4 linked regions of the Homo sapiens genome follow. The protein of the gene in region 3 interacts with the protein of the main gene of each other region in a biochemical or structural test. Each region holds a gene or a part of one and is shown on either strand. Other genes may lie near its edges.

The links.
Region 1: of the proteins of PRKCE (region 3) and PRKD1, one has a biochemical effect on the other in vitro, tested with the Homo sapiens proteins (one study listed by IntAct).
Region 2: of the proteins of PRKCE (region 3) and NUMB, one has a biochemical effect on the other in vitro, tested with the Homo sapiens proteins (one study listed by BioGRID).
Region 4: of the proteins of PRKCE (region 3) and RASGRP3, one has a biochemical effect on the other in vitro, tested with the Homo sapiens proteins (one study listed by BioGRID).

What each region holds. Positions count from the first base shown.
Region 1 is NC_000014.9:29,924,844-29,931,943, forward strand, and holds the start of PRKD1 (serine/threonine-protein kinase D1), read right to left. Parts: upstream 3,005-7,100; 5' UTR 2,670-3,004; coding exon 2,406-2,669; intron 2,254-2,405; exon of another isoform or gene 2,123-2,253; intron 1-2,122.
Region 2 is NC_000014.9:73,274,691-73,280,549, reverse strand, and holds the end of NUMB (protein numb homolog), read left to right. Parts: intron 1-1,125; coding exon 1,126-1,269; intron 1,270-3,256; coding exon 3,257-3,972; 3' UTR 3,973-5,334; downstream 5,335-5,859. UniProt on the Homo sapiens protein: Regulates clathrin-mediated receptor endocytosis. Plays a role in the process of neurogenesis.
Region 3 is NC_000002.12:45,647,115-45,654,694, reverse strand, and holds the start of PRKCE (protein kinase C epsilon type), read right to left. Parts: upstream 3,021-7,580; 5' UTR 2,595-3,020; coding exon 2,247-2,594; intron 1-2,246.
Region 4 is NC_000002.12:33,556,632-33,563,659, forward strand, and holds part of RASGRP3 (ras guanyl-releasing protein 3), read left to right. Parts: intron 1-1,579; coding exon 1,580-1,705; intron 1,706-2,040; coding exon 2,041-2,399; intron 2,400-6,097; coding exon 6,098-6,106; 3' UTR 6,107-7,028. UniProt on the Homo sapiens protein: Guanine nucleotide exchange factor (GEF) for Ras and Rap1.

The sequences.
Region 1 (7,100 bases), on a different chromosome or scaffold from region 3:
AACACACAGAGATCCTGTATCCTGTGATGGACCTTCAGCTCTCTTAATTTTGTTTCTGCTGGGATAATAATATATTCTGAAAGAGATGACAAATGACAGAGAAATTGAAAAAGTCCTCTGTCCAGAAACACTATCCAGTATATATTTATTTACAGTATTCTGTATATAAATAACCCTCAAGTTCACATCTATAAATCTAACCCCAACTTTTTTATAACCTAAAAAAAAAGTGAGATCTTTACCTTAACTATTCCAAACAGTCAAACTTTTCAAACTTCTTTGAGAGAGAGAAGAAACTACTAGAATAAATACAAAAGGAAAGGATTCCCCTTATAAATCAGTCACCAATCAGGGCTGATGATTTTCCCTTTCCAGTATTTCTCCCAGTCTCTCCCCCAAGTCTTGACTCATGTTCCAACTAGCTCATGACTGAACTTCGGTGCTCTTTCTGCCATAACATTTTTGGCATTCTAAAACCTCCATACAGCAAATCCATCTTTCAGATGTCCTTGGTATGATGTCGCTATGAAAAGATTACTGAGGCTTCTAGCAATTTGAGTTTAATTCAAGGCCTTTTCATAACTGTACTTCCCTTAAATACCCAGGCCACCACCTGCAGGCCTGCTGCATTCCATAGGTGCTTGCTGTCCCTCTCCCTCTGCTCTCGTCTCACTCTCTCCATGTAACACGCCCCTTGGTAGCTTCTGAGACACCTGGAATTCACCCTCCATTTAAAATCCCACTACCAAACCTCTTGAACTAGGCATCAGTCTCCCCATTCTGAACTCCAGGAGGAAGTGGGGGGCGGGGTGGAGGGAGAATTCAAGCTGGTCAAAACAAAGTCTATCAATATTACTTTGACCCAATTTGAATATTCTCTGACACTACTTCACTTGCTTTAGAATTTAGAAAAGTTAAAATTGTACAGAATTACCTTTGCTTTTTGAGAAATTTTGTTTTACATTGTATACGTGCTTATGAAGCATTGCTGTTTCATTAACTGGTCTGCATCCAAATGGAGAGGATTGTATACAAGGCTTTCACAGTGCCTAGGAGTGCTCCTGCTGACCCACAATAGACATTCCACAATACTGATGTGGAAAAGGAGCATGATATGACTTACATCAGCATTAGACAAAACGTGTCATTTTCTTGGAAGTTGCAAACAGTTGACATTACCCGTAATATAAAAGTAAATTTCCATAAATAAATTCCTGGCACTCATTGTTACCTTAGTCTAGAACTTTCACAACTTTCTAGATCAGTGATTTTTTTCCACCTGGAGCTTTTAACATTCCTGTGCTCAGTGCTGCAATTCACAACCCTTAAGATTTAGCAAACTCTGTTACAAATAATTTAAAGAAAGCAATTCATGATTATTCAAGTGATAATTAGAAAGCAAAAGGAGTGCTAGCCAGTCCTCCAGGGCTGAAAAATTCAGCACCTTTAGAGACCTCTGTCTCCACTCCTGAAACGCTGGCTGTTTACACTAAGAAGACTGGCGCCATGGCCCCCTCTGCCTCACGTCTGTATCACCCCCTTCCATGCAACATCCATCTGGATGGCTCCAGAGGCAACCTGAAAATCCAAATTGCTACTGTAAACAGTGGTGGGTGGGCTGAGTCTCCTCTGGGGGTGGCCTGGCCCCGGATAATGACCCTTCTAACCTGCCTTCAGTGGCCGCTGTCCAGAGCCCCACAGCCTCAAACTTAAGGACACAGCCAGCCTCGGGGTGTTCCTGGACATCACCCCCACCACTTCAACGTCCTACTATCAGCATCCCGGGAATGAAAAATAGGAAGGTCGCAACTTTCAGGTTTTGTCGTTGGAAAATGTGTTTCCATGCTCATACAGAAGTGGAACTAAAAGATGACAAGGCCTTGGGTACCTGCACTCCTGGTCAGTTGTTTTGACAACTGGCCGAGTCAATCACACTCTCTTAAAAGCTTATCTGACAGGTGAGAAATTCCTTGTCTCCAGGTCATTCCGGGGGCACTCTGGTGCAGGAAGGAGGATTCCTGCACCAGGAATGCGCTGGTCCAGGGTCCGTAGGGGAGAGAGGGGAAGAAAACTGGGAAGTCTCAAGGACAAGGAGGGGCGCGGCGAGGAAAGGGCAAGATACCTGGAAATGTCATGAGAAGGATGGAAATGGGTGAGGAGGCGGCGGACTGGAGAGAAATCGGTGAATAGAGGAAGATGGGGCGAGAGGAGGATGAGCAACAGCGAGCGCAGCGCCTCGGGTTGCAGGCGTCCAGCCGCGGCGGGGCCAGCCGCTTCCAGAGCGCCGGCGAGGCTGGCGGCCAGCCGAGCCCCGGGAGCCGGAAAGTTGGCGCGGAGAGGGCCAGCCGGGCAGCGCCCCCTGCGCCGCGGGGAGGCGCCGGGCTGGCAGCGGTGCGGCGACTTACCTTCTGGTCGACAATGGAGCAAGCCATCTCGCGGACGTGCGCCAGGCTGTAGTCCCCGGACGAGTCCTGCAGCAGCAGCACCGGCTCACGGCTCAGGCCGATCTGCAGATGGAACGAGATGCCCCCGACCGGGGCCGCGACAGGAGCCAAGAACGGCGCGGGCCCGGGCCCGGACCCTGGGACCAGTGCGGCGGCCGCTGCGGCAGCTGCCGCCGCCACGGGCAGCAGCGGACTGGGCGGCCGCAGGACCGGAGGGGCGCTCATCGCTCGGCGGGGCGCAGGGCCGGGCAGCGGAGGGCGGGGGCTGGCGGCGCGGCAGCAGGAAAGTTTTGCAGCCGCTGAGCCAGGAGCTTCTTTCTCCGAGAGCCCAGACGGAAAATAAAAACTTTCCGGAAAAGTCCCTGGGCTGGGGGAGGGCAAGGGGATGAGGATCGGGAGGGGAGGGGACTAAGGGGAGGAGATGGGGAGGAGGGAAAATGGCCGAGGCGGGAGGACTCTGAGGCCCGGAACGCGGCAGCCGGCTCGGGGCCGCCGGCACTGGGGAGGCGCCGCCGCCGCCAAGAATCTGCCGCCTGGCGCGCTCGGAAGGACGGGGCGACGGGTCGGCGCGGCCCGAGCGCCGGGCGGGGGCCGGGGCGGGAAGGGGGCGTGAGGGGCGGGGAAGGGGAGCTGGGGGCGGGCACTGGGGAGCCACCACCCGGCGGGCGCGGGAGTCGCAGGAGCAGCGGCCGCAGTGGCCGCAGGGTGCCCGGTCGCCGCCCCCTCCGCCCGCAGTTCCCGGGGCCTGAGCCTCCGCGAGCCGGGATAGGACCGAGTGGCGGGGCTCGGAGCCGCCTCGGCAGGCGCGGCCCTTCCCTCCCTGCAGGGATTCCCGTCCTCTCGGGTCCCGCTGCCCCGCCCCGACTGCGGACGGAGTGGATGGGGTGCACCGCCTCAGACCCGCTTCCTGGGGTCGCGAACTTCCCGGGCCCCAAGGTCCCTGCCACCTCTTCCAAATGCTGGAGGACTACGCACTTCTACAAGTGAGGTGACTTTTGAGGAATTCAAGAATGCTGATCACAGCGGTTCCCCTTGGGTCTTACCTTCGGAGGGTCAAGGGAGGATGGGTCATCTGGAACCCACTTACATCCAGGCCCCTCTGGGAGCCCTGGGGTTTGTGGCCAAAGAGGGTAGGAAGCCACTCCACAGAAAGGGGTTTAAACTTGTCTCTACCCTTTTTGTCGCTCTGACGCGCCCTTACAGCCAAACCTACGTACTCCACCCCAGCTCCTAAGGCACCGGATATACACAGTGATCTAAGGAGAGGGTCGCTTTGGAAAGAAAAGGCATTGACTGCCCAAGGGCAGGAGGGAGGTCTGATGCGGTCTCCTTTCCTTTACCTTATTCTTTGCGCCTGAAGTTTCTACTTTGGAGCTTCAGAAACTATTTTCCTTCTCCTCTATCAATCTAAAGTCTGTTATATAGGAGCAGTGCCCCCAAGTCCACCTCAGCACCGCCACCGTCATCACAAGCACAGCCATCAGGATTGGGCACAACCTGCCCTAATTTGGATCGCCGTTTATTTTTACTGTTGTTTTGGCAGGGTGGGGATTGCTTTACATTCGCTGGAGATGAATTATAATTCTCCCCTCCAACCAGGGTGGGCTTCATGGGTGTGCGACTATGCAGTTGTATAGGCCACAGCTCATAAGACCCGTGTTTGGTTTAATATTCTGGGACAATAGTCTACTGTCGCTGTTTTGTTCTTCTTCATAATTTTTAATCAAGGAGTCTCACATTTGTATTTTGCAATGGGCCACGCAGATAATGTAGTCAGCTTTGCCTCTCTCTTCGCCACTTCCCTAGACTTTCCCCTTCCTCTGCGTAAGTACACACAAACATACCTAAACAAACATTTTGTATTTTGTATAGCTTATTTTGTTCTGTTTTATTTATTTATTTATTTATTTATTTATTTATTTATTTATTGTCTTAACTTCTGGTTGTGGCCCAAGATATTGCAAGGTAGCTTCCTTTAGAACCGTGTTCCCAGGGTCAGTAATGGAGCCCCAAACACTGCAAGGCTGCACAACTGCATTGAAGAGACTTGAATTTATTCTCTGAATGTGATGGTTTGATAAGGTCTACCTGTGTTTACATTTTCCCTGCATAGTTACTTATGAGGTGGTCCTCTTCATCCCTGATACAGGTAGGTAATTTTCCTAATGTTCTAGACTCAGCTAATCTAGGAAAATGGTGGAATTTTTCTTGATGAAATGCCTTTCTGAATTCTGAAGGAGGTTTTTTTCTTTTAAATGTCCGAAACTATACTTCATTTTCTTTGAAATCAGAATAAAGTTAATATTCCACAGTTTTCTATTATCAAAAAAAAGCTTGCTGGTCAGTTTACAAGAGACTTACAAAAAGCTAGTTTCACTTGAGATTCAAGAGCGCTGAAGACATTCATGTTTTATAGATATCACAACTGCATGTTGAGGACTTCTCTGTTCCAGGCACTGTACTGGCACCAGTTGCACAGCTGTGAAGACAGGTGGTCCTTGCCCTAAAAAGATCACAGTGAAAAGGGGAGGGGGGATGGAGTAAAACCACAAATGATATTATTTCTAATATTCATAATTGCAATGAATTTTTTAAACCCAATGGCGAAGACAGTGACTTGTGGGAGGAGGGATGAAGAAATGGGCACTGCTCTGGACTGGGAATGAGAGAAGACTTCACTGAGAAGTTTACATTTGAGCCAAAATCTGGATGATAGAAAGGGTAGACTTCAGAAGAACTAGGGGAATAACATTGTAGGCATAGGTAACAGAGAGTGCAAAGACTCTAACACAGAAATATATTTAACATTTTCAAGGCATAGGAAAAGAGGGGCAAGTGCGTGAGATGAGGTCAGAGAGCTAATAGAAACCAGGTTACCAGGAGTCTTGAAAGCCATGGTAAAGTGTTTTTATTTCAATTCTCAGTGCACTACCAACCCATTGGAAGGTTTTAAAGCAGGGAATAATAAGATTAATTAGCATGTTTTAAAAGATTACTCTGGATTTTGTGTGGAATATAAGAGAAAAGAGTAAAAGTGGAGACACTGGGTAGGAGACTATTGCTGTTTTTGAGTCTAGAAACACGGGTTAGACTCCTATGGTTGTAGAAGAGATGCTAAGAAATGGGAAACTGCAGGCTCTATGTTGGCGGAAGTTCTTGCTGAATGAGTCAGAGATTTACAAGGAGTGAGAGAACAAGGGTGTCACAAAAGACTCCCAAGTTTCTGAGCAATTGGACTGATGGTGGTGCCAATAATTGACACAGAAGATAGAGAGTGAGCAAGTTCAGGGAGAAATAAGATTTCTACTTTGACCATGTTGAGTTTGATATGCTGCTAGATATTCAACTTAGAAATAGCATCTAGAGCTGGATATATGGGTCCAGCATCCAGAAAAGAGAAGAGGGTCAGAAATACATTTAGAAATCTTCTCAGTGTGCAGAAGGCATTTCAATGTGAGATTAGATGAGAGCTCTAGAGAGAAAGAGCTTAAAGTACTTATCAGTTATGAGACTTACAGGAATTTTAAAAAAAGTATGAATAACTTCTTGTTAGACTATGATTTATCAATAGTATGAAAGATTTATGTAGGGTGTTGGAAATAATTGATAAGGAAACAGGAGAAGGAATTCTAAAGATGCCCTAGAGAATTAACATTACTTTTAAGACGGTGAAATATTACTGAATGCAAAAGAGTGAATAAAGAAAAACAAGAAGAAAAAAATCGTGTATCTACTGGACCTCCCCATCGCAAACAGAAAATTCCCATGGAGTTGGTTATTGCAATTTCTATTGTAGGCACCTGAAATCTAACAGTTTTCCAACTGCTGCTCACTTTTGCTGAATGACAAGGGAATGAATAAACAGAGAATATCTATAATAAACCTGGTGTATATCTCTGGCAACTTTGAAATTGAACATAGAAAACTTGAAGGATTTGGGAAAATCTGGTTTTAATCTCTTCTGGATGTTTTAATCTTGGAAAAGAAAAGAGGATATAGAAAGTGAATAGTAGCTTATATTAATTATATTCATGAAATGGGCTTTCATTATTTTAATCCTGGCTAACAAGACAAGAATAAGGGACTTCTAGCAGTGACTGGGAGCACCACTTTGTAAAGAAAGTTTCATGCCCTAATGAAGACTCCACATAAAAGTGATGTGGACCTGCAAGGGTAAGAAAGTTTCATGCCCTAGGCCTAGGCTCACGCCTGTAATCCCAGCACTTTGGGAGGCTGAGGTGGGCGGATCACGAGGTCAGGAGTTCAAGACCAGCCTGGCCAACATAGTGAAACCCTGTCTCTACTAAAAATACAAAAAATTAGCCGGGCATGGTGGCGGGCACCTGTAATCCCAGCTACTTGGCAGGCTGAGGCAGGATAATTGCTTGAACCCAGGAGGCGGAGGTTGCAGTGAGCTGAGATCACGCCATTGCACTCCAGCCCGGGCAACAGTGTTAAGACTCCATCTCAAATTAAAAAAAAAAAAAAAGAAAGAAAGAAAAAAAAAGTTTCATGCCCACATAAAAGTGATGTGGACCTGCAAGGGTATGCAGAGTTACGTGGAGGTACTTCCAACAATTTCCAACGATGAATGTTAATCTTGTCAGGTTGTCTTCAAAAGATAGTTGTATGTTCAAGTCATTTTGGAAATATACA
Region 2 (5,859 bases), on a different chromosome or scaffold from region 3:
CTGGAGTAAAAGGAACAAGGGTTAGCAGATTTTAACAAGGGGAGATGAGGAAAGAATAGTAGGTATGTTGTGATATTGTAAACATCATAGAGGGGGAAAAAAATCTTTGTTAAAAAATGTTCTGTGAGTTACCAGGAGAGTTAAAAAAAAAAAACCTTCAAAAAAAGTTGAAATTAATTGTGTAGCAAATTAGAAATCTATCAAGCAAATGAAAACATACCAACTTCGATTTCTCATCTGTAATAGGGGGATAATACCAGACTCGTAGGGTTTTTGAGATAATTAAATGAAATGATGCATGTAAAATATTAGCTTAATGACTAGCACATAATAACGAATCATATATACATTTTAACTTTTGAGGAGGAAACAAAGAGTAATTTTTTTTTGTTTGAGATGGAGTCTTACTCTGTTGCCCAGGCTGGAGTGCAGTGGTGTGATCTAGGCTCATTGCAACCTCCGCCTCCCGGGTTCAAGTGATTCTCCTGCCTCAGCCTCCCTAGTAGCTAGGTTTACAAGTGCACACTGCCACACCCAGCTAATTTTTGTATTTTTAGTAGAGACGGGGTTTCGCCACGTTGGCCAGGCTGGTCTCGAACTCCTGACCTCAGGTGATCCACCCACCTCGGCCTCCCAAAGTGCTGGGATTACAGGCGTGAGCCACCACACCTGGCCTATTTTTAACCAGTATTATTGTTAACATAATCTGACCTTTTGGAAAAGTGAAGAAGAGGGAAATGCTATACCTACTTCATTATGCCGAAGGCTAAGCTATATCTAGAATAGTTAGATATTTTTTGCTGCTCCTAAGACGCAGCAGCTCTGTTCACCTTAATTTGAAATTGTTTTCGTAGGTTTCATTTCCCCACTCCCCATGCACATATTTTCCTAGAACAGTTATTTGACTTTATCTATACAACCATTTAAAAATTACAATCTCTGATTGCTTCTTTGCCTAATGGTATGTACATCCAATGCAAGATATCATGGTTTTCCCAAACATCAACTCTTCTCTCTTATCCATTCCACCAGTATTGTACATTCACCTGACTGACACAGCTCCAAGGGGTCACTTGTACACCCTGCATGAATTAACTCCATTGATGTTGTCTGCTCCCGTTGTAGCTAATGGCACTGACTCAGCCTTCCATGTGCTTGCTAAGCCAGCCCATACTGCTCTAGCACCCGTAGCAATGCCTGTGCGTGAAACCAACCCTTGGGCCCATGCCCCTGATGCTGCTAACAAGGAAATTGCAGCCACATGTTCGGGTAAGGTGGCCACAGATGGTGTTGAGGATTCTGGGATCAGATAAGTGACCCTGGTTCTAAAACTCAGCCAGTTAGCTGAGTGGGAACTAGGGAGGAATCCTTTCAGGAAAACTATGTTCCCTCCTAGAAATAAGTTGCTTACATAAGAAAGGATGGTGAAGGAGAACAAAAGAGATCAGACTGATAGTCATTAGGACTGTGGAACAGGACTGTGGAACAGAGCCCCACCCATAGAGCTTTTATAAAATACAGATTCCGGCTGGGTGTGTTGGCACATGCCTGTAATCCCAGCACTTTGGGAGGCTGAGGTGGGTGGATCACGAGGTCAGGAGATGGAGACCATCCTGGCCAACATGGTGAAACCATCTCTACTAAAAATACAAAAATTAGCCAGGCGCGGTGGCATGCGCATATAGTCCCAGCTACTCAGGAGGCCGAGGCAGGAGAATCGCTTGAACCTGGGAGACAGAGTTTGCCGTGAGCCAAGATTGCGCCACTGCACTCCAGCCTGGGCAACAGAGCAATACTCTGTCTCAAAAAAAAAAAAAAAAAAAAAAAAGATTCCAGGGCCCCACCTCAGAGAATCCATCACCGGATTTGGTGATGTGCAGACATTCCTGTAGAAAGAGGGGGCCCTGCTCCTACAATAGGAGGCCTACAAAAAGTGCTAGAAAAAGCACTTCATTTTTGCTTTTTTGTACTTTCTAGTTTTGTATAAAAAACATCTATTAATTATAAAACCAAAAAGTTTTTTTTTTTTGGAGGTGGAGTATTGTTCTGTCACCCAGGCTGGAATGCAGTGGCATGATCTTGGCTCACTGCAACCTCCATCTCTCAGGTTCAAGCAACTCTCCTGCCTCAGCCTCCCGAGTAGCTGGGACTACAGGTGCATGCCACCATGCCCAACCAATTTTTGTATTTTTAGTAGAAATGGGGTGTCACCATGTTGGCCAGGCTGTTTTCGAACTCCTGACCTCGTGATCCACCCGCCTTGGCCTCCAAAAGTGCCGGGATTACAGGTGTGAGCCACCACACCCGGCCTCAAAAGGTTTTAACATAGTAATAAAGGCAGTTCACCAAAAAGACAACATATTTCTGGAAGCCAGGCAGAGGCCAGCAAGATATGGCCAGGTCACTGGTTATTTTCTTTTTGCTCTGTTAGAGCAGAAGATGAATTGCCTTGGGCCCTTTAGAGGATGTGCAAGCTAGGTGTTTTTTTTTTTTTTTTTTTTTTTGAGACGGAGTCTCGCTGTGTCACTAGGCTGGAGTATCTTGGTTCACTGCACCCTCTGCCTCTCAGGTTCAAGCAACTCTCTTGCCTCAGCCTCCCGAGTAGCTGGGACTACAGATGCATACCACCACGCCCAGCTAATTTTTGTATTTTTAGTAGAGACGGGGTTTCACCATGTTGGCCAGGATAGTCTCGATCTCTTGACCTCAGGTGATCTGCCCACCTCGGCCTCCCAAAGTGCTGGGATTACAGGCATAAGCCACTGCACGTGGCCTTTTTTTTTTTTTAAGACAGAATTCTCACTGTGTTGCCCAGGCCAGAGTGCAGTGGCACAGTCATAGCTCACTGCAGCCTCCAGCTCTTGGGCTCAAGTAGTCCTCCTGCCTCAGCCTCACAAGTAGCTGGGATTACAGGTGTGAGCTACCACAACCAGCTAGTTTCTGTATTGTGGATGAGCCATAGCAACAGCGAGGGGTTTCTGACATCAGTCAGCTGCCGTGGTTTAATGCATTTGAGCCATATCTAGACAGTGCTTCAGTGTGGCTGACACAGCAGCATGGTCTTGACAAGTTTTCTTCATCCTACCACAAAATCCCAGTTGGTAATAGAGACTTTACTCCTACCTATCAAAACCACAAAATGTCCCATTAGGGGGGGACATGTTGTACATGTTAGGATCATTCAAATAACCAAGATTATAAGGTGAGGAAAGATGCCCCTAACTGATTCTTTTGTCTCTCATCTTGTTGGTTCCAGGGACCGAGTGGGGTCAATCTTCTGGTGCTGCCTCTCCAGGTCTCTTCCAGGCCGGTCATAGACGTACTCCCTCTGAGGCCGACCGATGGTTAGAAGAGGTGTCTAAGAGCGTCCGGGCTCAGCAGCCCCAGGCCTCAGCTGCTCCTCTGCAGCCAGTTCTCCAGCCTCCTCCACCCACTGCCATCTCCCAGCCAGCATCACCTTTCCAAGGGAATGCATTCCTCACCTCTCAGCCTGTGCCAGTGGGTGTGGTCCCAGCCCTGCAACCAGCCTTTGTCCCTGCCCAGTCCTATCCTGTGGCCAATGGAATGCCCTATCCAGCCCCTAATGTGCCTGTGGTGGGCATCACTCCCTCCCAGATGGTGGCCAACGTATTTGGCACTGCAGGCCACCCTCAGGCTGCCCATCCCCATCAGTCACCCAGCCTGGTCAGGCAGCAGACATTCCCTCACTACGAGGCAAGCAGTGCTACCACCAGTCCCTTCTTTAAGCCTCCTGCTCAGCACCTCAACGGTTCTGCAGCTTTCAATGGTGTAGATGATGGCAGGTTGGCCTCAGCAGACAGGCATACAGAGGTTCCTACAGGCACCTGCCCAGTGGATCCTTTTGAAGCCCAGTGGGCTGCATTAGAAAATAAGTCCAAGCAGCGTACTAATCCCTCCCCTACCAACCCTTTCTCCAGTGACTTACAGAAGACGTTTGAAATTGAACTTTAAGCAATCATTATGGCTATGTATCTTGTCCATACCAGACAGGGAGCAGGGGGTAGCGGTCAAAGGAGCAAAACAGACTTTGTCTCCTGATTAGTACTCTTTTCACTAATCCCAAAGGTCCCAAGGAACAAGTCCAGGCCCAGAGTACTGTGAGGGGTGATTTTGAAAGACATGGGAAAAAGCATTCCTAGAGAAAAGCTGCCTTGCAATTAGGCTAAAGAAGTCAAGGAAATGTTGCTTTCTGTACTCCCTCTTCCCTTACCCCCTTACAAATCTCTGGCAACAGAGAGGCAAAGTATCTGAACAAGAATCTATATTCCAAGCACATTTACTGAAATGTAAAACACAACAGGAAGCAAAGCAATCTCCCTTTGTTTTTCAGGCCATTCACCTGCCTCCTGTCAGTAGTGGCCTGTATTAGAGATCAAGAAGAGTGGTTTGTGCTCAGGCTGGGGAACAGAGAGGCACGCTATGCTGCCAGAATTCCCAGGAGGGCATATCAGCAACTGCCCAGCAGAGCTATATTTTGGGGGAGAAGTTGAGCTTCCATTTTGAGTAACAGAATAAATATTATATATATCAAAAGCCAAAATCTTTATTTTTATGCATTTAGAATATTTTAAATAGTTCTCAGATATTAAGAAGTTGTATGAGTTGTAAGTAATCTTGCCAAAGGTAAAGGGGCTAGTTGTAAGAAATTGTACATAAGATTGATTTATCATTGATGCCTACTGAAATAAAAAGAGGAAAGGCTGGAAGCTGCAGACAGGATCCCTAGCTTGTTTTCTGTCAGTCATTCATTGTAAGTAGCACATTGCAACAACAATCATGCTTATGACCAATACAGTCACTAGGTTGTAGTTTTTTTTAAATAAAGGAAAAGCAGTATTGTCCTGGTTTTAAACCTATGATGGAATTCTAATGTCATTATTTTAATGGAATCAATCGAAATATGCTCTATAGAGAATATATCTTTTATATATTGCTGCAGTTTCCTTATGTTAATCCTTTAACACTAAGGTAACATGACATAATCATACCATAGAAGGGAACACAGGTTACCATATTGGTTTGTAATATGGGTCTTGGTGGGTTTTGTTTTATCCTTTAAATTTTGTTCCCATGAGTTTTGTGGGGATGGGGATTCTGGTTTTATTAGCTTTGTGTGTGTCCTCTTCCCCCAAACCCCCTTTTGGTGAGAACATCCCCTTGACAGTTGCAGCCTCTTGACCTCGGATAACAATAAGAGAGCTCATCTCATTTTTACTTTTGAACGTTGGCCTTACAATCAAATGTAAGTTATATATATTTGTACTGATGAAAATTTATAATCTGCTTTAACAAAAATAAATGTTCATGGTAGAAGCTTTTGCCCATGAAGGGCTGTTCTTTCCCCTTTCCTTTATTAGTAAATGAATTTATTTTTCGTTCTTTTGGTCTTACTCTCCATTCTACTGCTGCTGTAAATCCCTAGTTTAGTGACTAGAAAAATACCCTTAAGATTCATATTTTCATTCATACTTTAATCCTGAGTGTATCTCTAAAGTCAGATTCTTGCTGCTCAAAGTGTGGTCTGTAACAGCAGCATGGACTTCACCTAGGAGCTGGTTAGAAATGCAGAATCTCAGCGGGGTGGGGCAGTGCTTCTCAACCTGGGCTATGCAATAGAATCACCTGAGGATATCTTTTTAAAATCCTAACGCCTGGCCTATATTCCAGACCAATTAAATCAAAATTTTAGTGGGGCAGGGGGACCCCCCAGGTTGTGTTTTTTTTTTTTAAGCTCGCAATATGGTAAAGTTGAGAACCACTGGCCTAGAATGAGTTTTACCTCTAATCTTAGCCCACTATTCTGTGACTGGTTCTATTAGAACTAGTTAGCTGCTAGCT
Region 3 (7,580 bases):
TCAAGTTTTTTAGTTTGTCCAATACCTGCCATACCTAATTCACAGTTGCTATAAGGCAAAAGAGATGAAGTTATCAAGTACAATAAAAATGTCAGGGACACAGCACATGGATCTGCAGGGAGAATAGGCTGGGAGGCCAGATGGGCAGGCTCGGCTCCCCATCAGACAAGCCATGGGCAACAGGCGGTGAGGGCCCTACTTCCAACCCACCTTTGCTTGTCATGTGACCCTCGGTCCCCAACTAGCTTCTCTGGAACTCAATGTCCTCATCTGTAAAACTTGCCTGTGCACTAGATGATCTGGCCTAGGGCCAAATCCAACATGAATTTGAGAACCTTAGAGGATGATAACCAAACAAGTTCCCACTGCATGCTTCACTAGGAGGGATGAAGGTGGGGACAGTGTCCTGAAGCTCCCAGAGTTTGGGGTGTGCCCCAGTGAAGCATCACCAGAGATACAAAGACACTCTCCCTCCAACCAACATCTGTTCTATGGATAAATGCAGACCTGCTGCTCCTCATCCCTGCTCTCTGCCCCACTGTCCAAGCCCCTCATCTGCATACACTGCAAAAGGCTCCCATCTCCTAGCTACCAGCGTCAAGTTTTTTCCACCCCCTTCCTGTCCAAAAACAACAACTCCAAAATCACAGGTTTTCAGAGTCAAGGTCTACCTCTGAAATTAGTTATCCCTTCCACTCCCCCTCTCATATGCACTGCATTCATGAGGAAAGGGCCCAAAGGCCATGCATGGAAAAGAAATGGGGAATGAGTGGGAGCTCTGTTGTGGGGGCTGAAGGAAGCAGAGATGAGGGACATCTGTGAAGTAGAATAGAATGGCATGGAGTTCTCTGGGATTCCATAAAGGTTTGCCTGCTTTCCAAAGTGCAAACCACAAATCTAGAGTTCTACGCATGTGGCTTGTTGGAGCTTCCCTGTGAAACCGTAACCATGGTTTCAGGCAGACTACATCACAGCCATGAGCACAAAAACAACAGGCTCTCTCTTATTTTTCCCTAAAACTCCGTGTCCTTGAAAAAAATATGTAAGGTGATATGCCAAAGTGATCCATGTGCAACCTCTGACCTCTAGGACATTCATGAAGTTAGCTGGTTTTCAATAGAAAGCAATTGCTCTACACCACTTTTGAGGCTTAGATAGCTCTCTCACTTTTTGTGTAGACCAAAGAACCCTGAAAACATATACCTCCAGAGGAACGCTTGTACTTGCTGGAAACATGTAACAAACCTGAAAACACAAAAATCCACATCCTAAATTAATACCTTCCTTCCAAGAAGAGAGAAAAAAAAAAAAAAAAAAAAAAAAACAACCCAAAAACAAACACAAAAAGCAAAATGAAGGTTTGCTTCTCTCTGCTTGTCCAAGTGCCAAGACTGGATGCATTTGGTTTATAGTAGATTGAGACAAGACCTCTTTCCAAATCCTTAATAGTTTAATAATGGAATCAATTAACAACTCAATCTCATACTTAGAAATCGTCTTTTATTGCACAGTATCTTGACAATCAAAACAGAGAAACAATATAACTTTAAATAAGATTCAAAGCACTGACTTCCAATTACCCACAAGCAGAACCCTTCTTAAAATGCAACATTCATTCTGCATGGATGGGCAATGAATTGGACAAAACAAGCTCGACTGATGTTTCTGGGACCATAGAGGAGACATCCTGGAGGAGAACACATTTTTTCTACTTGTATGTCAGAAGATGAGCTAACCACCATGCAAGAGAATAGAAACAAGCCAGCTTCCTCTCGGAGGGAAAAATAAAGCAACTCCTCGCTCGGCTAAGCAGGACAAAGCCAGGACGTGCAAGAAGCCTTCAGTCAAAGGCTCCACGTGCCTTTCCAAGGACGGAGGGACCCACCCACACACAATCACACACAGCCAGCCCACCACGCGCCTGCGGAAGAAAGCCGGGTCCTCGGCCAACCTTCAGCACCAGTGGCCCAGGCTCTCCCAGTTTGCAAACCTCCCGCAGCACCCACCAACTGGAGGGCACAGAGGGAGCAGAGGGCCACATCCTCTTTCCAAGTCTCATCTTCCTCGCCAATGCCTGTTTCTCCCCAACTATGAAGTGAAGTGTACCTCCCCAAGGAAACTGAGACTTACAGGCACACACACCCCAGTCGTCAATAAGTCCCGGAGCCCTACGATCAAGACCAGCGAGTCTTTCCCCGGGACCCCACAACCGGGTTCCCGGAATGACGGGGAGGCGCCGCACTCACCCAGTCCTCGAAGTGGCGGCTCCCGTTCTGCAGCAGCTCCTCAAACTGGATGGTGCAGTTGGCCACGAAGTCGTCGTAGCCTATGGGGGCATCGTGAAAGACAGCCAGCTCGATCTTGCGTCCGTTGCACACATCGGTGACGAACTCGTCGTGCCAGGCCGGGCTGTTGGTCTTCTGCTTGGTGGCCGTTTGGCCGATGCGCGAGTCGTCCACATTGAGGGCAATGTAGGGGTCGAGAAGGAAAGTCTGCGGCCGGGGTCCCACCGCATGGCGCAGCGACCAGGCTGTGGGCTTCAAGCTCACGGCCTCGCAGATTTTGATCTTAAGAAGGCCATTGAACACTACCATGGTCGGGGCGGGGAGTGGGGGCCGGGGTCACTCCGTCTGCCCCGAGGGCAGGAATGAAGAACCGACGGCCCGGCACTCCGAGCCACAGGGACTCTTGGGTCCCCTTTCGCCCCACCCCGCACACTCCCTACACCTTGTGGCGTTGCGCCCTGGCGCGGGCGATTCTCAGCCAGTGCATGTATTTCCTCGCCGGGTTCCTAACGGAAAACAGGGAGGGGGGAGAGCTGGGGGATGTCCGTGTTTGGAGCAAGTCTCTCCCCCCGACCACCAGCTGCACCTCCAGAAGAGAAGACGAGCTGTCGGCTCCGCTGCAAGCCGCGGGGGCTGCCTCGCCGCCTCGCTGGCTCTCCGGCTCCGGACTGCGGGAAAGCGGGCGCCGCGCCCGGCGCTTACCTACCTTTCCGAAACATAATCCCGGGAAATTTCGACTCCGGGAGGGGGATGGGGCGGTGGGACGGGGCGGGGACGAGAACCGGGGGCGCAGATTTCAACCCGGATCCTCTTCGCACACTCAGCGCCTGCCTCTGACCGCGCGGGGCGGGGGGGTGAACGGAGGGATGTTCAGTCTATCCGGAGGGATGCATGTCGAGAGGAAATGGTCCTCCTCGGAGCCAAATTTTTAAAAATCCACAAGCCCCACGGCCAGCCGGGGCCGCCGCCTCCTGGGCGAAGCAGCGCCGCGCCGGAGCCGGCGATCGGGAGGCGCCAGGAGCCCGGAATCTCACATCCGCGCGGGCTCGGAGTCCGGGCGGCCGCCGATCCGGCTCGGGGGCGCAGGCCAGCACCGGGCGGTGCGCAGCGCGGCGGCGGGGCAGGGACTGCGACTCAGCGCGGCCCCACCTCCTGGGCGCCGGCGCCCGCCCTCCGCGCTCCCCGCGTCCCCGCTCTCGGCTGCCGCTCGCTCGCCGCCCGCCAGCCCGCGCTCCCCCGCGGTCTCCTCTCCCTCTGTCGGTGTGCGAGCGAGTCTCCCTCCCTCTAATGCAGGAAATGCGCAAAAGACGTCAGTGTGTGTGAGTGTGTGTGTGTGAGTGTGTGTGTGTGCACGCGCGCGCGCGCACGGCAGTGTTTGGGGAAATAGAAAGTTTTGCCGGTTGGGGGAGCAATACGGAAAAAGTGAGCCGAGGAGACAACGGTGGAGAGCTGGCGAGGCTGCCCGGGGTCGCAGCGGCGGGCGGGTCAGCCGGGGGGCGGGGACCCCGCGCGGGACCCCGGGGTGCGGCGGCGCTGGGCTGGATGCGCGTGCCGGGGGCCGTGGATGGCCATGGATGGGCCCCGCCGGGCCGCGTATCTCTCGGGGACCCTGCGGCCAACACTGTCTTTTAGAGCCGGGGATGGGGGAGTGGAGGGGGCCCTGTTGCCCTAGAGGCCTCGGGACCCTTCCCTTGCCCACCCCCACTCGGGCCGCGGCGGGCAGGAGCAGTCTGCGGAGTTCTGGCCCATCTGTCACTCTGTCCCGGGACGCTGTGATCCACGGCGGTGGGGGAGGGGGAAGGGGGAGGGACAAGCATGGCTCGGGTGAAGTTTTAAACTCTGTTCTTCTCTCTTGCCTTTCTTTGGGGACATTCTCCCCTTTGGGATCTGTCCTGGACTTCGCAGGCTGCGAGAACTTGTTGACAAGTGAAAGCTCGGTAGAGCCCCGGCTTGGTTTGTGGTCTGCTTATTTTTTGCAAAGTGACTGTTCCTGTTTGCGCTGGTCCTTATCGGTGCCCCTTTGGGGGACTTCGGCACTGATCAGCGCGCTGACAGCCGCCGTCCGGGCTGCGGGAAAATGGGGCGCGCCCTCCGGGGGGCGAGTGGCTGTGTCCTTGCTAATTTCCTCCGTAACCTTTAAACTCTCGCTGGAAGCTACCGCCGCGGCTGGTCACGTGAGGAGAGCCCTGGGCTGCTGGGGAAAAATTTCCTCGGCTGGGAGCCGGGACCGGGCCGGCGGCCGGCGAGGGACTGCCCCGCGCCCGAGACTGGGAACCTGGGAGGGCAGGGCCGGAGCGCTGGGCCCCGGGGCGCGGCCCAGCTGGGACACCCGCGAAGACGGCGGCGGTGAAGAGGTCGGCTCCGCTGCCGGGGAGCTGGGGATTATGCAAATGGGGAAAGAAAACCTCCGCCCTCGCCCTTCTGCCAAGTCAAGTCTGGGAATTTGTAGGTATTGTGGTAAGCTGAGTGTTCATCTGGCGGGTCTGGTTAGTGTAAACCAAAATTTAAAACGCGCCTCCCGATCACTTTTTCCTCAGTGGGTAAAGGTTATCATTGCCTGCGGCTTAAAAGCCTAAAAAGGCTTAAAGGCGAGGAAGGAGGCAGTCCCCTGGAAAAACAGGATATCAAGTGCAGCAAACACGTCCCAAAAATGATCCGAAAAGTTCTAGGGCCATCTCCTAAGAACAGGCAAAGCCTTTGCCTGCAACCGCTCTGGAGCTTCCTAATACAGTAATTTCTCGCAGCCTGCCCTGTTGAACAGGGCAGCTGGGTAGAGATGGTGCTAAGATTCAGTCTTCCGTATGATCTAGGTAGCTCCGATGTAAAAAGCCAGGATTTCAATGGTTGTCTTACCCTGTCACTCCCCCAGCTGGAGATACGATATCTTAAAATATGTCCGTTTGACAAAGCACAAGCAGGGGTATCTCATTGCTGTTTAATTTTTATTTCTTTGATTATTACTTTTTTCCCTTTTGCTTCTTCCTTCCACTCTGCTATTCTCATGAAGCCTCTTTCCCCCTTTCCAGGGCATGTGATGGAAGGCAGTGGCAAATATGGCTTGATCTTCTGAAAATGCATTTGGGAAGCAGAGCCAGCACCAAAGTGAGATGAGTGAGATACTTTTCAGAGGCAAAATGTAAAGGGTACCAATAAACGTAATCAAGATAAAGATTTAATACAATTTTTTAAAAATAAAAATGTGAGAATCCAGAATGGACACAATATCCACATTTTAAATAATTTTAAATATTGCACTAAAATATTTATACTACTGAGTTTATTGGCACCTGTTAAATTTTGTACCTGAGCCGAGTGCGTCACTCATCTCACCCTAGTCCTGATCCTGTTGGGAAGTCTGGAAAGTCAAGGATTTCATGGAGTTAGGGATCCTTGACTAATTGGTGCTTCATATGTTCTCATTACTTGCTTTGGGTAAGTCTTGTACAGGCAGGAGCCACCATGCCCAGCCCCCAAATATATTAAATAGGGTCTGTTACCATCTCAGTGACTGTCTTAAAACAACCTACAAACTTCCAGCACCATTTCCTAGCATGCTGGCTCAGCAGACTGTTACTCCGTGTAAATCACCAGACTGCAATTCTCAAGGGCGACCAATGCTTGTCTCCTTTCCATTACAGCAACTCTTTTGGAGCAAGGGTAATAAAAGACTTTGTCAAACAAAATACATGTTTTGTATTGGATTAATGTTTACATAAAAAGGGAGAATGCTGGTAGTCTGCATGCAAACACTGCTAGTTTCCTGCCCTTATTACCTCCTTATTTCTAAATAAATCTCTCGCCTTCCTACTCTCAAACTTGGCCAAATGAAAAGTTGAATTCCCCAGGGACATCATGGAGATGCCAGGTCCAAAATAACCCCCTGCTCCAGGTTTCATGTGAAAAGAAAATCCCAAGGAGGGGGCTTAGACGGTAAAATTCCAATAGGAAATTATTGCCAGCTTCATCCTTCCCTCAGCCCCTGTCTCCAATCCCAAAGGATAAGACAGTGGTTAGCATATACATTGAGTAAAATGACCTTTGGATTCCAACTATGGCCTAGTTATTTCATAATCTTTGTGAGAAGGAAGAAAATGATACAATAATTTAACAAAGATGACCAAAATGGAGCCTTTCTCCTTTCAAAATTAAGGCTTATGAGAAAAGAATAGAACAACAGATGTGGCCAGGACAGGGCGATCAGTGTTGCAATAGGTCTATGGATGGGAGTGGCACAGAAGAAGGATCACCCCTTTGCCTGGGGAGCCTGGGAAGGCATCAACCAGCAGAATCCTTTGAGCTGAGTCTAGGCTTTCCAACAGGAGTTCTTCCAGCAGCAAAGAGGGAAGGGAAGGGTACTGGCTGCAAAAAGTATAATGTGTACAGGTAGGAAAGCCATGACTCTTCAGGTAAGCGGCCAGGTGTGCCCCACTTGTGGCAGGTAGTAACAGGAGATGAAGTAAGTAGGAACCTGATAGTTAAGACCTCAGAGGGCCTGCAGATGGGTCTCAACTTTTTCCTGGAGAGACACCAAACATTCCAGCGGGCAAGCAGCATAACTAGAGTTAATACTTTACAAAGGCGATTTTGTGATGGATAAATATTTTTCTCTTCTGTAATTTTCCTCCAGAAGGCTCACCTCAAAACAGGGTATTAGACAAAGAGAAGATCCAAGTCTGAAGATGATTTACACTCTGTATAATCAAAATTGAAACTGTCTGTGGATACTGTTTAGATCAGCTGGAGGAAGCGGGGAAGGGGGAGCCAGAACCGTAGACTAGCGCGTTAATATTCATGTCCCTGTTGCTGTGCTGGTTGTTGCCATTTATAGAATGTTAATGGGCTTCTGCAAAGGTCTGCCTGGTCAGGGTCTATCATACATTCCACACATGCTCCGCTGAACAGAATCCAACCACCTGGGCCATGGGATGGAACGCGCAGCAGTATAATGACACAGAAACCTTCTAGAGCTCCGCTGGTCCTGCCCCAGCCTAGCCCCCACCCGACCCTGAGCCCCACTTCAAACTTTGCCCCACACCTATACTCCTGTGGTGGGCTTTTGTCTGCCCTGCCATGTCTTCTTATTTTGGCCCCATCTCAGCTCCGAATTCTGGCCCCATCTCTGCTCTATATTCTGTTGCAGTGACTCAGGCCAAGCTTCACTTAATACCTGCAAAGAGGTGGAGGGATCAGAGGCAGCCCTATCGAGCTTGCTGATGGATGCAGAAGGAGATGGCCTGGTGCCCCTATTCCTCAGGGCCTGTGACTGTGAGCCCTACTCACTAGGATGCCATTTGG
Region 4 (7,028 bases), about 12 Mb from region 3:
ATGTTGTTCCCCAGGGATGCCTTTTTTCTCCAGTCGTTTTCCAGTATTTCGTCCTCATTTTGCATGAACAAAAAGCTTCCCAAATCTCAATGGAAGCCACTGTTTAGTGCTCAGAGGGACCTTCCCATTAGTGCTTCTCTATCACTTGCCTTGGTCTAACTTAGATTTTTACTTTCAAGCAGCAAAGATACTGCAAGATCTTATTGCCCAGCAGTGAGTCATTAGTTTTATTCTGGTTTCTATCCTCATACCCTAAAATACACACACACACACACACACACACACACACACACACACGCAATTTTATAAAGATGAAAATCTATTACACCTTTGGATTATCTCTTGTATTTTCTTAATGGCACATAAAGTGAAAAAAAAAATGAATTGAAATAGATTGAATACATCATTAAGACTATTTGAAACAAGGTCACTTAGGGGAAAATGGGTACTGGAAATAGTTAGAAAGGTCCTCCTTGATGGTAGGAGAGAAATGATCATCTCTATTCAATGATTCTCAGTGAAGTGCAGGACCCTCATCATAGGAAATAATTGTGAACCACCATCTGAAGTGGCCACATTTTTCTACCCCAAGTAGTAATTAACATTCTACTGTCTTATCTAAAACATCCTAATGGGCAATTCACAGACTCTGCTGCACGCTGTTTCAAAGCCATAAGCAAATATAGAACATATTTACTGAGCATATGCCCATCTTGTGTTCTGTTGGAAGCAGAAGATATAATCACTGGCCCTGAAAGGTTTTGGAAAATGAAGAAGAGTAAAAAAATCCAGACAAGGCCGGGCACGGTGGCTCACGCCTGTAATCCCAGCACTTTGGGAGGCTGAGGTGGGTGGATCACGAGGTCAGGAGATCGAGACCATCCTGGCTAACATGGTGAAACCCCGTCTCTACTAAAAAATACAAAAAATTAGCCAGGTGTGGTGGCGGGCACCTGTAGTCCCAGCTACTCGGGAGGCTGAGGCAGGAGAATGGTGTGAACCCGGGAGGCGGAGCTTGCAGTGAGCCGAGATCCCGCCACTGCACTCCAGCCTGGGCAATAGAGCGAGACTCCATCTCGAAAAAAAAAAAAAAAATCCAGACAAGTGCTGAGTGGAGGAACACCTCACAGTAAATGATCAGAGGCAGTTGGCCTGGGAGAGACTAGAAGCTGAGGCTTCTTGCCCTAATGCTGGCATAGGCTCTCTTTGTGGGGATTCCGTCTAAGCCTGGGAAAGACTCTCAACCCCATTTGATTTGCATTTAGTTTTGGGCAAAGGCAACTGACCTCTCAGGCTGGACTCTATTTACTCCCTAGGCACAATTGCTCATTAGGTCCTCAATTGCATACAGAACCAAGCTGAGCAAATCTAAGAGAATTTTCGGAACCTCAGGAAGGCAAGTGCAGACCAATGGCCTCTTTCCAGATCCTAGACACACCCCATGGGCCTGAGCTCAACTCTGAAATTCAACACAGAAACTGGGGTGGGGGAGGGGAGGGCTGACAAATCAAGTGCCACCCTGGAAACTGAATCAACATCAGACACACTAATCATCTGCGACACCCTTGGAATTTTTCAGACTGTGGAGCCAATTGTCACAAACAGTGCAAAGACCTCCTGGTTCTGGCCTGCAGGAGATTTGCCCGGGCGCCCTCCTTGAGCAGTGGTCATGGGTCACTGCCTGGAAGCCCCTCGCTGCCCCCAGGTAATGCCCTCTGCTTTCTTTGCTGCCATGGTCTCTTTCTGCTTGCCTCCTCACACTTGGACCTCATTTAGGTTCTGGGTCTAAACCCGGTCAGTCACTCTAAACGCTAAGGCCTTCTTTAGGGTGAGCAGCAGTAGCTAAACCCTTGAATCATCCTTGCTTCTCTCTGCTTTCTAGTCTCAGGAATATGTAACTTGCCTGCGGCTAATTGAGTTCTGTCCCTTGTCGGTTCCTCTAGAATGTTGCATGCCAGACTCGTGCTGTTTGCACTAACCTTGATGCTTTGCTGTCAAGCAGTCAGATGTCAAATAATCACCACCCTTTTTCACTTCCAGCGCAGGATGAGGTGTTTGAGTTCCCTGGAGTCACTGCTGGACACAGGGATTTAGACAGCAGAGCCATCACACTGGTTACAGGCTCTTCTCGCAAGATCTCTGTGAGGCTACAGAGGGCCACCACCAGCCAGGCCACCCAGACTGAACCTGTCTGGTCAGAGGCTGGCTGGGGGGACTCGGGGTCCCACACCTTCCCTAAAATGAAATCCAAGTTCCATGACAAAGCAGCAAAGGACAAAGGCTTTGCCAAATGGGAAAATGAGAAGCCCAGGGTGCATGCTGGTGTGGATGTTGTAGACCGGGGCACGGAGTTTGAACTTGACCAGGATGAAGGAGAAGAGACCAGACAGGATGGTGAGGTAAGTGCTAGGTCAACCCACAAAGAAAACCAGAAGAAGGAGGCTGAAAGTGCTGAGATGAGCGTTACAGAGGGTCTGGGGGGCAGCCTGGTAGTTCTGAAAGCAGAATGGTTGGGAATGAAGACATGTATCACTTTTAGTCTTGCCACTGCCTAGCTATGTGACCCTGGACATATGTTTCTTCTTTATGGATCTCAGTATCATGATTTAAAAAAATTGAACGAGATCAAGTTCTGAAACCTATTGAAGGCTGTCATGTGTGCGTACTGAAATGATGCCCCAGAAACCCATGACTATATATCCAAAATACCAGTACACGATACAGATCAGCTTGGTTTTCCAAGCTAGAACCAGGGCCCAGACTCAAGAAAGGCAGTAGAAGCAAAAGACTTTTAGATAAAGGAGAATTGGAAACTTTTCATTCTGCTCAAAAGAAGCTTTTGACAGCATCATGGAAAAGGGGGTGGTGAGAATCAGAGATACGAGGCCCTTGAGGATCTCTAAACCAGGCTCTGCCTCCGCATGAGCAAAATCATGCAAAGCAAAGTAGGATGCAGATGGAATTTGTTAGAGTATGCTGACACAGAAATTGATTCAAGATGGAGTTAGATAAATTTATTAGTTAACAGTCTATAGTGTATTAAGAGAAAGGATTTGAGAAAATTGGCATGATATTCCTAACATTTAAAGCAATGTCATGGAGGACAGCCATTGCCACCCTGTCGAATTGTTCTCATAAACAGAATATTGGGTTAGGCAGAGATCCTACTGGATCAAGCCAGTGCTCTTTAGTCTTATGGGTGGTCCTCCACATTCCACTCTTCAGGAGACCTAAACACACGTCTCCATACATTTCCCATGATGAGAAAAACTCCAGTGACCTTTAGCCAGAAATTCCCCTAGTTCCTTCCTCACTGAAGGCAGTGCATAAGGAGGCCACCCATTATCTCTGGTCATACAAGGTTTATTGTAAGTTTCTGCTGAAACACTTTTTTTGTTTCTATAACATCCACTTTTAAAAACAGCTTTGAGATGTAATTCATATGCCATGAAACTGACCCATTTAAAAGTATGCAATTTAGTATACTTTCAGTATGCTTTTAGTATACTCACAAAGTTGTGCAACCATCACTACAATCTAATTTTAGAACATTTTCATTATTCCAAAAAGAAATCCTACACCCACGAGCAGTCATTCTCCCCCAACTCACCCCAGCCAACTAATTTATTTTCTGTCTCTATAGATTTGCAATGCCCACTTTATTTTTAACATTTCCCCCACTGATCATCTTGACAACTGTATCAGTCCTATCCCCCTACTTCTTTTACTGGCCTAGCACAGTTCAAGCTGGGAATATAAACGAGAATAAGAGAAAGATCATGATTAGGTGTCAACAGCTCTTAACCCGAGGTCTATTTAATGGCTTTAGGGTGTTCATGACAGTACTTTATACTCCGTGTAAAATATACATGGACATATGGTCACTTCTGGGAAGAGGAGTCCATGCATTAAACAAACAGATTCTCCTGGGGGGTATGTGATCCAAAAAAGCAAAGAATCATTGTGCAAGAAGATTTTCTGGATTCCCTGTCTAGTCACCCCATACACTAACTCAGCCTGCAGAGGCTGTTTCCGTGGGTGCTGTAGCTGCCCCTGGAATGTCAGAAAAAGAGCTTCTCCAGGTAGATGGTAGGACGCCTACCAGAGTGCTCAGGATGGCGCCCACCTTGTGGGCATCTCTGAATTCAGAGGAGAACCTGCTTTTGTTTAACAAATAGTGAAATTGGCCATGAGCTCATTACTATTGGCCTCTCACAGTTCAAGTTACTTAAAAACTGTGCTTCTGAGTTAGGAGAAATTCACAGCCTGTTGGGTGTAAGACAATCAAATAGGTAAGATATCCTGATCATTAATCTCTATAAGGAAATATAAACAAGTATCTGGGTTTTTAAAAAAATTTAATTTTGTTTCCTGGAAATTGAACTTTTATATTCAAATGCTCTCTTATCCTTTCTGTGTTCTTATCTCTTTTCTTTCTTTTTTTTTTTTCTTTGAGACGGAGTCTCACTCTGTCACCCAGGGTGGAGTGCAGTGGCACAATCTTAGCTCACTGCAACCTCTGCCTCCCAGGTTCAAGCGATTCTCCTGCCTCAGCCTCCCAAGTAGCTGGGACTGCAGGCATGTGCCACCATGCCCGGCTGATTTTTGCATTTTCAATAGAGACAGGGTTTCACCATGCTGGCCAGGCTGGTCCCAAACTCCTGACCTCAGGTATTCTACCTGCCTCAAACTCCCAAAGTGCTAGGATTACAGACGTAAGCCATCGCGCCCAGCTGTGTTTTTATCTCTTAAAGCACAGGGATGGTTCACTGACCACGAGTATTTAATTTCATCTGTGCTAATTAATGAAGGACGTATGCTCTTATATGAAATGCATATATATGGTATACAGTTCCAGTACCATTCAAATCAGTAACAAATGAGATGTTTGCTCTGTTTAGGGAATAAGGAAGAAGGGAAAAAAAATGACAAAATTATACCCAGCGGTTGAATATGTAGACAAAGGAGTTTGCAAATTTAAGATTTTTTTTTTTTCTGCCAGGCAAGACCAATAAATGGCATTAGGAGCACTGACCTACACATTTATTATTTAGTATCAGATGATGTTTGTGAGTCCTGTAGTTAAAGACTTTAGAACACAGAAAAGGTACGTGTGTTTGTAATCTGTGTATTTCCTCCAACGGAGTTCCAGGATTTACGCTCATTTTAAAATATAAGGGTACGAACATTTTCTGTGGCAGTGTATGTCATCTCCCCAATGACCACTACATGTCAGAACAGTTCAAGATTACTCTCTTGGCAGTAAGAATACATGTATTTCCTTTAAACTTCTTCTTTTGTTTTCCTTTATCTTCTACTAAATTAAATTTAGTCAACAAATACTTATCATAAAAGGGTTGGGAAATGCTGACTAAATAAAATGGAATATGTTTATGAATATATGTAATATACATAGTCATACATATGTACATATACATATGTAGATTTACAGATTTTCTCAGTGCCCTCTTGCACTAATTTACACTGTGGATTTCTAAGAGGGAAACCTTTTAACAAGGACCATTTCAAGGGACTAATGATTTGTGGTACACCCTTTAAGGTCAACATCCTAGTTGGACTCCATATTGGAGTCTTTAAGAGTTCATATGCTGGGTGAACTACATGATCTCTCTCTCTTTTTTTTTTTTTTTTTTCTGAGACAAGATCTCACTGTCCCCCTGGCAGGACTGCAGTGGTACAGTCATAGCTCACCACAGCCTCGAACTCCTGGGCTCAAGTGATCCTCCCATCTCAGCCTCCCAAGTAGCTGGGACTGCAGGCATATGCCACCATACCCAGCTGGTTTTTATTTATTTTTTTGTAGAGACGGGGTCTTGCTATATTTACCAGGCTGGTCTTGAACTCCTGGCCTCAAGTGATCCTCCCACCTCAGCCTCCCAAAGCTCTGGGATTATAGGTGTGAGCCACTGCACCCAGCTACCTACATGATCTCCTAATTCCCACTAAATCCTGAGACTACAAGGTACTGATCATTTCAGATGTTCCCTCAAAGTCATCTGAAAAACTGCTTTCTAGGAACACTCTTATTTTGTTATATGAGATCCAGCCATGCAATAGGTTCCAATTTGTGTTTCAGGATGGCTGACTTCAGGCTGCGGAAACTGAAGGCAATAATGTTGGCTTTTGGAAGGGGCAAGACGAGAAACTCTGAAGAAAGCTCTGACTCTCAGGAAGTTATCTGGAAAGATACCTGGATGTTTACTGCCTTGGGACACTGTGGGATCTCCATGTTTGGACTATGGGACAGAGAATTGACCCTAACTAACTAACTATGAACTATTTATTTCCTCCTCCCCTACCCCTAGTTAAGTGCCACAAAGACTGTGTTATGTAGTCAGTACTTTTTTCTCATGTATCTTTCTCTAGACCATTTATATACGGGTGAAATGAAAGCTTTTTTGCATGTACTTGATACTCAGTCTGTAAACTCAGACTTCGCTTTTTTTGTGAGACTATCCTTTCAATATTTTTATAAACTTTTGTGTGTGCTGTGGCAGGGAACAGTTAACAAGGAGTTTATTTAGAGGGGTTTTTTTCATTTTTTGTTTTTCTTGTTTTGTTTTGTTTTGTTTTGTTCTTCTTGGTGTGCTTTTTGGATGGGACCAGAACTTAACATTTTCCTGAGGACTAGGAAGCTCATCAGACACTGGAATGCAGTGATTCTTCTAATGATGGTCAACTGCAAGGAGAAACTGTTTACATCCTTCCCACTACACAGTTGCTATGATATGTAACAAGTCACACATGTATATATCACACAAGTCTTACCAATTCTGCGTCACTAGGAAGCTATAGCATGGTCGTGAAAGCTCTCCTAATACTTACTTAAATAGCCATGGAAGAAAATTATGCTTGTCCCTTCTGACTGGGTTAAGCCATCTTTCTTAAGATTCCTGAAGTAGAAATAGCAATTAAGAAATTAATTCAAGTTTTGACGGTTAACATTTAGCAGAAAAACAAACCATTGAATAAGCTACTAGGTGAAATGCAAAACAACCATCAATTTT